Linked DNA regions of Homo sapiens: region 2 is linked to region 1. The links come from fine-mapping of genetic effects on gene expression. A gene starts in region 1. The other region holds a variant in brackets. All regions are shown on one strand. Distances are between the middles of the regions. Region 1 holds the start of DEPDC5 (DEP domain containing 5, GATOR1 subcomplex subunit). Region 2 overlaps DEPDC5 (DEP domain containing 5, GATOR1 subcomplex subunit).

Region 1 (4,392 bases):
TGGTAATTACAATGGCTACATTTATTGAGCACAGAGTCTAACACTCTGCTAAATGCATTACATGTATCACTTTACTTAAGCCTCACAATGCTCTATGATAGAGAAACTATTGTTTTCCCTTTTTGGCAGTCCTTCCCCTCTGGAGGCTTATACCTACATAATGTAGAAGTAAATACACCCTAAAATACAATGTTAAAAAGACTCATGCCAGCGCGGTGGCTCTTGCCTGTAATCCTAGCACTTTGGGAGGCTAAGGTGGGCGGATTGCCTGAGCTCAGGAGTTCGAGACCAGCCTGGGAAACATGGTGAAACCCTCTCTACTAAAATACAAAAAAAAAAAAAAAAAAATAGCCAGGTGTGGCGGCATGCACCTGTAGTCCCAGCTACTCGGGAGGCTGAGGCAGAAGAATTGCTTGAACCTGGGAGGTGGAGGTTGCAGTGAGCTGAGATCACGCCACTGCACTCCAGCCTGGTGACAGAGCGAGACTCTGTCTCAAAAAAAAAATGCCAATAAATAATAAAATAAAATAAAAAGATTCATTATATTGTTAACTCCAATTTCTGAAGTAAATAATGCTGTTAAGACAGAATGGAAAATTATTCCCTTACAAAAGAAAAAAAAATTATACTAAGTGCCCTTTTATTCTTCAGATTTATGGATTCAAGGCACTAAGGAGAGCTGGGTACAGTGGCTCACGCCTGTAATCCCAACTATTAGGGAGGTTGAGGTTGAGGTGGAAGGATCTTTTGAGCTCTAGAGTTCCAGACTAGCCTGGGCAACATGGGGGACCGTGTCCCAAAAAAAAAAAGAAAAGAAAAGAAAGGAAAAAAAATAGATGTTAAGAGAAACTATTCTAAAGCCCTTCAACTTTCAGATAAGGTACACTAGGAGCTTGCCCAAGGTCACCAGGAAAATTAGAAGCAGAGTAGATACTCAGACTATAGCTCAGTGCAGAATAACATGCTGTATCCTGCTCCTTCTTCCCATGCCTACAAGCCAGGCAAAGGTTCATGCTTTGATCATACCTGCTCTATGCACATCTATGCCACTTCTCTCTCACTCAATGTAAAAACTGATAAACGATTTTAGTTTCTCTTATCTGCCAAACCAGTGCAGGCTGGAATTTTATGGAACATACACGGAAGATTTGTAATTAATAATGCAATTCAACAAATGAAGGGTAGTAAACCGGCAGCATTCACAATGTTCCTTAAAAGTCTGAATGCAAATGCATTAGAAGGGTCCTGCCATCCTCCTATTGTTACTGTATGACAGTTGCTGCTTTAGTCTGTTTAGTCGCCTGTTTAGCCTCAATTGTCACACGAGTCAGTGTGTAATTTCTAGGTATTGCACACACCAGAACCTCAGCCAACTTACAAAACCTCTAAAGACCAATCGATACTGACCACTGCCCCCAAAGCCCTTCTTGTGGATGACGAGTTTGTAGACCTTTGTTGTTCTCATCTTGCACTGTTTTTCCCTTTAGCTGTTCCAAGCTTGGGGCAGAGAAGTCATCTTGCCTCCCTGCCACAGAAATACAAACGAAAAGGTTGGAATGTCAGATTTTTCCTTGCAACCACTCTTTGATTTTAGGCCAGTGAAGATACTGGTGTTCCTCTGCTGTGAAGTGGTGCCAAGTGACTCTCGGAAGAAGTCACTCCTCCAGTTACAAGGAGCGATGGAGAACAAATAGAACCACAGAATCCAGGAACTAAGGGGAATTCGGGCCAGGGGCTAGTCAAACCTAGGAGAAGATATTCTATCACACCCCCATAGGGGAAGCATTGCGCTGAATGGGTGCTCATCACCTTGTCTCCATCTACACCAATAACACCCAAATAGTAAAGAGATCTTAAAAGAGGTTAGCCCACTCATTTTGTAGATGATGAAAGTGTGACTCCGGGCAAGGGACTTGCTCAAGGTCACTCGAGACTTAAGAGACACTCCCACCATTCTCGTTTTGCTGCCAATGTCCTGAGCAAGGCAACCACAAAGAGGAGGAAGGCAGAAGTTCCTTCCCCAAACCTCGGTCTGTGCGAACTCTCAGCAGACCTTCCCTGACTCCGTTTCACAGCTGAGGCCGTTGAGGCTCAGAGAGGGAGAGAGACTTGTCCAAGGTCACACAGCGGAATGGGGATGGAGCCTGGAACTCGAACCTGGGCCAAGGTCCCCTATCTCAAGCCCCCCCAATCCCCAGTCCGGGGCGGGCAGCTCCACTCACCGAAGCTCTAGAGCCCCTTCCCGCCTCTGGCCGGGGCACTGAGGGCTGGACCCTCTCCAGGTTCCCTGCGCCTCCTCCAGATACCCCGCCTACGCCCGCGCGGCCCGCGCTGTTCCGCCCCTAAGCCTGAAGCGCCTACTAGGCCCGCCCCGACCGTGTAGCGCTCACCTGAGAACCCGCGCCGCTCCGGTGGCTCCGCCCCGGGGCCCCGCCTCCTTCCCGCCCTCGCGCCCCCGCGCCGCTCTCGCCGGGCCTCCGTCTCGTCTCGGTGGCCGCACCACTTCCTCATCCGGGGCTCGAGCCGGGGGCGGGGCGTCGTGTGCGGCCTCTTCCTTGGGCCACCTCCTGGCGTTTCCTGCCCTCGAGCACTAGAGCCTCCCGCCCCACGGAGGAAATCCATTTCCTCCTAGTCTATCCGAAGTAGATCCATGGCCACAGAGCTTCGTTTCCGACTCAGTGATCTCCCCACAGGGGAAACGAGATCCGTCAGAGCTCCGTTTTCTGTTATATGAACGAGGTTAATGACTCATGTGGCCTCATTGGGCAGCTAAGAGGCGCCAACGAGAGTTTCTGGGAGGACTTCTGTAAAATGCAAGGGGCTGAGCACGCGAGAGTTAGGGTGATGGCCTCTGCTGGGAAGTGTCCACTTACGGGGGGCTTTTCAAACCCTTGCAAACTCTAAACGACGTTCTGCGCCCCTCAGGTTATTAATAAGAATGGCTGCCGTGGCTTCATAGTCCTTATGTAATCATTGCATCCCTATTACCTGATGGATGCAGGAGGCAGATACTATCCTATTTCACAAACCAGGAAACAGCCTGAGGACACAAAACCCTTCAGAAGGAAGCAAGGACGAATCCTGACCCGTTCCCAGAACGGGGCCTTTAACCAACATCCTTTGGTCATACCCAGGGCACTGCCTAAACTCGCGTCTGTCAGGATATCTTTCTCTCCAAGCAGAAAACCAGAGAGCTGGGTGGGCTGGGTCAGGCTCTGGCCAAGGACTCCTGACAATTGCCAGCTCCGCCTGCTGCCACTGATACCCCCGCCCCCTAGTCCAGTCCACCGTTTCTGACCTGAGCGGCAGCAACTCGATAGGGACTCCCTGCTTCCCCTCTTGAAGCCAGAGAGACCTTATAACTAGAATCGGTGTCTTGGGTCACGCCTCTCCTCTGCTGCTTCTAATCACACTGACTGCTAAATCTAAACGACACAGCACTTGTCTTAAATTTCTTTATATCTTTAATACTAACAGTGCCCATTTCTTACGGATTTGGAAAACTTAAAAATGTTGAAAGAAAAAACATGTTACACTGTAGTGAAAGATTCTGCAGTGGACCAAGGGGACCCTGGGACAGGACAAGCAACGTTCTTAAGCATGGATGCCTTTATGTTGGGACTCAGGAGAAGTTAGGTAAATAATGCAAGTGTTAAGTAATTGCAATTTTTTTGTTTGTTTGTTTTTTTGTTTTTGTTTTGAGATGAGGTCACCCTCACCCAGGCTGGAGTGCAGTGGCATGATCCCGTCTCACTGCCATCTCTGCCTGCCTGGCTCATGCGATCCTCCCACCTCAGCCTCCTAGTAGCTGGGATTACAGGTGCATGCTCAGCTAATTTTTGTATTTTTTGTAGAGACGGGGTTTTGCCATGTGGCCCAGGCTGGTCTCAAACTCCAGAGCTCAAGTAATCCGTCCGCCTTGGCCTCCCAAAGTTCTGGGATTACAGGCACCAATCACTGTAGCCGGGCCTTTTTTTTCCCCCAAGACCAGGTCTAGCTCTGTTGCCAAGGCTGCAGTGCAGTGGTTCTATCATAGCTCACTGCAACCTCAATTTTCTGGGCTCAAGTGATTCTTCTGCCTCAGCCTCCCAAGGGACTGGGACTACAGGCCAAGCCACCACTCCTGGCTGAAATTGTTTATCTTGTAATAAAACATATGTGATACAGTGGATTGCAACAGTTACAAAATTTTTTAAGAATAACAATGTTATGTTAAAAAATGTTTCTATGTTGCCACTTCAGGAGATACACCTAGATCCCCCAAGATAGTTTTTGTCTTTAGCAATGGTGGTTGATGGGACATTCTTCCATCCCTGGGGAAGCTAATAGGATTCTCTCTTCTTAGCCCTCAAGGGAATTTGATTCCTTCTCCTGAGAGATGTCCATAATGGG
Region 2 (4,392 bases), 61 kb before region 1:
AAAAAAGAACATAGTCTAGTTAGTTATTAAGGAAATAAAAGAGAAAAACCTAGTAAAAAAAAAAAGATGAGTACAGGCCAGGTACAGTAGCTTATTCCTGTAATCCCAGCACTTTGGGAGACCAAGGTGGAAGGATCACTTGAGCCCAGGAGTTCGAGACCAGCCTGGGCAACAGATTGAGACCGTCCCTACAAAAACTTTAAAAACTAGCCGGGTGTGGTGGTGCACACCTGTAGTCCCAGCTATTTGGGAGGCTGAAGTGGGAGGATCACGTGAGCCCAGGAGGTTGAGGCTGTAGTGAGCCAATATTGTACCACTGCACTACAGCCTGGGCAACAGAGTGAGAACCTGTCTCAAAACAAACAAATAAAAGAAACCACCCATGAAACTGCTCAGGCCATCAAGGGTATGCATATATAAAAAGCCACCAAGTATATGAAAGATGTCACTTTGGCCAGGCAAGGTGGCTCACGCCCGTAATCCCAGCACTTTGGGAGGCTGAGGTGGGCAGATCACCTGAGGTCAGGAGTTCGAGACCAGCCTGACCAACATGGTGAAACCCCATCTCTACTAAAAATACAAAAATTAGCCAGGCATGGTGGCAGGCACCTGTGATCACAGCTACTCGGGAGGCTGAGGCAAGAGAATTGCTTGAACCCGGGAGGCAGAGGTTGCAGTGAGCCAAGATCACGCCATTGCACTCCAGCCTGGGGGACAAGAGTGAAACTCCATCACAAAAAAAAAAGAAAGAAAGAAAGAAAGAAATATGTCACTTTACAGAAACAATGTGTACCATTTCCACATTACAATGATGGAGATAGTAGGTGGTCCCAGGCCACACAGCACGGCTGCACACGGGGTCAGTGGCCAAAAAAGAGTACTGAATTATTGCTACATATGCTTAAAAATGCACAGTCATGCCGAACTTAAGGGTTCAGGTGCAGATCCTCTGGTCATTGAGCATGTCCAGGTGAACAAAGCACCCAAGATGTGCTGCCTGATGTAAAGAGCTCATGGTCAGATTAACCCATACATGAGCTCCCCCTGCGAAACCAAGATGATCCTCATGGAAAAGGAATAAATTATTCCTAAACCAGAAGAGGACATTGCACAGAAGAAAAAGATATCCCAAGGCCAGGCATGGTGGCTCACGCCTGTAATCCCAGCACTTTGGGAGGCCGAGGTGGGTGGATCATTGGAGGCCAGGAGTTTGAGACCAGCCTGGCCAACACGGCAAAACCCCATCTCTACTAAAAAAACAAAAATTAGCTGGTGTGGTGGTGTGTGCCTGTAATCCCAGCTACTTGGGAGGCTAAGGCAAGAGAATCACTTGAACCCAGGAGGCAGAGGTTGCAGTGAGCTGAGATCATGCCACTGTACCCTAGCCCGGGCAACAGAGCAAGACTCTGTCTCAGAAAAAAAGAAAAGAAAAAAAAAGAAAAGAAAGAAACTGAAGAAACAAAAACTGATAGTATGGGAATAAATTCGGTACAAAATCAATGCAAATAAAAGTTAAAAAAAAACAGGTAAGTGAAAAAAAAAGTTTTTTGTTTTTTTTTTTTTGAGGTGGAGTCTCCCTCTGTCACCCAGGCTGGAGTGCAGTGGTGGAATCTCGGCTCACTGCAACTACGCCTGCCAGGTTCAAGTGATTCTCCTGCCTCAGCCTCCTGAGTAGCTGGGATTACAGGCACCCGCCACCACACCTAGCTAATTTTTGTATTTTGAGTAGAGACGGCGTTTCACCATGTTGACCAGGCTGGTCTCAAACTTCTGGCCTCAAGTGATCCACCCGCCTTGGCCTCCCAAAGTGCTGGAATTACAGGTGTGAGCCACTGCGCCCGACCGGTAAATGAGAAACTAAAATGCAACATTAAGACAGAGGTTGTTTTATATATGGCACAAATGGAAATCATAAGGAAATAAACCCTTTTGACCCTAGGCCTAAGAAAAGCTTTCCATTAACATATGGAAAGGCATACAGTTAAATGATGGATGAAGAAAGGCTAAACAAAAAATAGTATAATAGAGGCAGGGTGCGGTAACATTGGTTCATGCCTGTAATCTCAGCACTTTTGGAGGCCAATGGGTGGATCCCTCGAGTCCAGGAGTTCAAGACCAGCCTGGGAATGGTAAAACCCCACCTCTACAAAAAAAAATATGATAATCAGCTGGGTGTGGTGGCATGCTATAGTCCCAGTTACTTGGGAGGCAGAAGTGGGAGGATCAATTGAGTCCAGGAGTTCAAGGCCGCACTGAGGTGAGCTGTGATTGCATCACTGCACTTCCCCACCTCTACAAAAAAAAATATGATAATCAGCTGGGTGTGGTGGCATGCTATAGTCCCAGTTACTTGGGAGGCAGAGGTGGGAGGATCGATTGAGTCCAGGAGTTCAAGGCCGCACTGAGGTGAGCTGTGATTGCATCACTGCACTTTA[T/G]CCTAGGTGCTCTGTCACCAAAAAAAAAAAAAAAAAAAAAAGAAGTATAATATATACATAGCTAACAGCTAAAGTGATTTGTACCTACTGCACTGGCAAAGAAATCATTAAGATGTGGGATTTACACCCCACCTCTGACCAATCCTCCCACCTCCAGTCACCCACTATATTAAGAAAGATGTCCCTGGCTCTGTCTGTGCTTCAGCACTCTTACCTCGAGTGCTGGTGTATCCCAAGGAGCTGCTGACTTCATACTGGTGCAGGTGGGGGTGTGGGATCATCAGGATGTTGGCACTCTTGCCTAGGGAGCTGTCGTCAGAAGCCTGGCTCCTCACTTCCTCAGTGGGCAGTGTGCGGCTTGGTAGGGAAGGGCTGGATGAAACATCACAGGAGCTGGCACTCTTTCGACTGTGACTCTCTCGCTCTCGCACAGATCTGCCAGGCAAGAGACAAAAAGTTACCATCAAGCGAGGGATGCTGTCCTACCTTGAGTTAAAACTAAAACCCATCACCAGCCCAAGCCACATGGAACCCAATAACAAAAATCCCCAGTGTGATCTACAAGTGGGAAACCTGTATGCGGTACTTCACCCTTAACAGCTTGAGATGTTATATAAGAGAGGGGGGAAATGACAGACATTATGCAGCCAAAGTCCTAGGATCATAGTTGTAAAGAAAGGACTGCTCCAGGCTGACCCCACCTAATCCCACTGATTAATCTCTCATCACTAAAAACAGAATGAGAAGAGAGGTATGATGTGATGTGGGAGAAAGAACATAGTGCCCAAGAAGTCTACTTGCCCTCAAATTTGAATCTAAATCTAATCAAGCTTCCAGAGATAATTGCCAGTTTACAGGGAATCTGCAGAATAGAGGAAAACTGAAACACTACAAGGCAACAATCAGCCAAATGTAGAAAGCAAGACATTCTACTGTCACACACACACACAAAAGGCATTATAACCAAATGCAAAAAGTGGATCTTGTTTAGGTCCCATTTCAAACTAACTGCAAAAGCACATTTTTGAGGCAATTCAAAAAACTGACTATGCACTGGCTATTAGAGGGCATTTAGGGATTAGTGTTAATTTTGTTACCAATGATAATGGTACCGTGATGGGTTTTCTTTTAGTTCTTATTTGTTGAAACATATACTAATCAGCTTTGTGCCAGGCTGGGTGACACTAAATAAATAAATAACATGTAAAAAAAGAAAGAAACTTACGCTGAAGTATGTATTATTGAAAAAAAATAGAGGCTGCCTGGGGTTTGTTTTGTTTGTTTGTTTTTGTGAGACGGAGTCTCACTCTGTCACCCAGACTGGAGTGCAGTGGCATGATCTCAGCTCACTGCAGCCTCCACATCCTGGGTTCAAGTGATTTTCCTGCCTCAGCCTCCCAAGTAGCTGAGATTACAGACGCCCACCACCACGCCTGGGTACTTTTTTCGTATTTTTAGTAGAGACGGGGTTTCACCACGTTGGTCAGCCTGGTCTCAAACTCCTGAACTCAAGTGATCCACCTGCCTTGGCCTCCCAAAGTGCTGGGATTACAGGTGTGAGCCACTGTGCCCGGCCAATCCTGGGATTTGTTTTTAAAATATTCCATCCAAAATTTAAACGTGGGAGAGGTCATGAAACAAGGCTGACAACATGGTGATAACTGTTCATGATACTATTCTCTATTTGAGCACGTCTGAACATTTCCTAATAAAAGTTTATATATGCATATATATATATATATATATAGCCTTATTAAAACATAAAATTCCCTAAGGGGAAAACCTCTAAAAGCAACAGGAAGAAGGATCAAAAAGAAAGAAGCCCTATAGAGAAGCAAAAGCTCAGAACGAAAAAGCAAGCCCACCAACGGGGCTGCCCTTCTGGCATCAGAGCTGCTCCCTTTCCTCCTGGAAGGATTTTTTTAGTAAGAGCTTAAACGGAGCCTGAAAACAGATT

Evidence for each region. PIP is the estimated chance that this variant, and not a neighbour inherited with it, causes the effect.
Region 2: its variant is fine-mapped to the expression of DEPDC5 in whole blood (TOPMed, PIP above 0.99). The same link has a PIP of 0.9 or more in blood mononuclear cells.

The regions. Positions count from the first base shown.
Region 1 is chr22:31,751,995-31,756,386 of GRCh38, reverse strand. DEPDC5 (DEP domain containing 5, GATOR1 subcomplex subunit) reads right to left here and starts at 2,368. Exons shown (of 43, transcript NM_001242896.3): 1 at 2,223-2,368; 2 at 1,408-1,525. The coding sequence starts at 1,465. RefSeq lists a silencer at 2,294-2,603.
Region 2 is chr22:31,813,470-31,817,861 of GRCh38, reverse strand. DEPDC5 (DEP domain containing 5, GATOR1 subcomplex subunit) reads right to left here. Exons shown (of 43, transcript NM_001242896.3): 21 at 2,650-2,870. It also overlaps the pseudogene RPL17P52. Among named protein-coding and RNA genes, the nearest start is that of DEPDC5, 62 kb to the right of the region's middle. The variant T/G (reference allele first, on the strand shown) is at 2,436.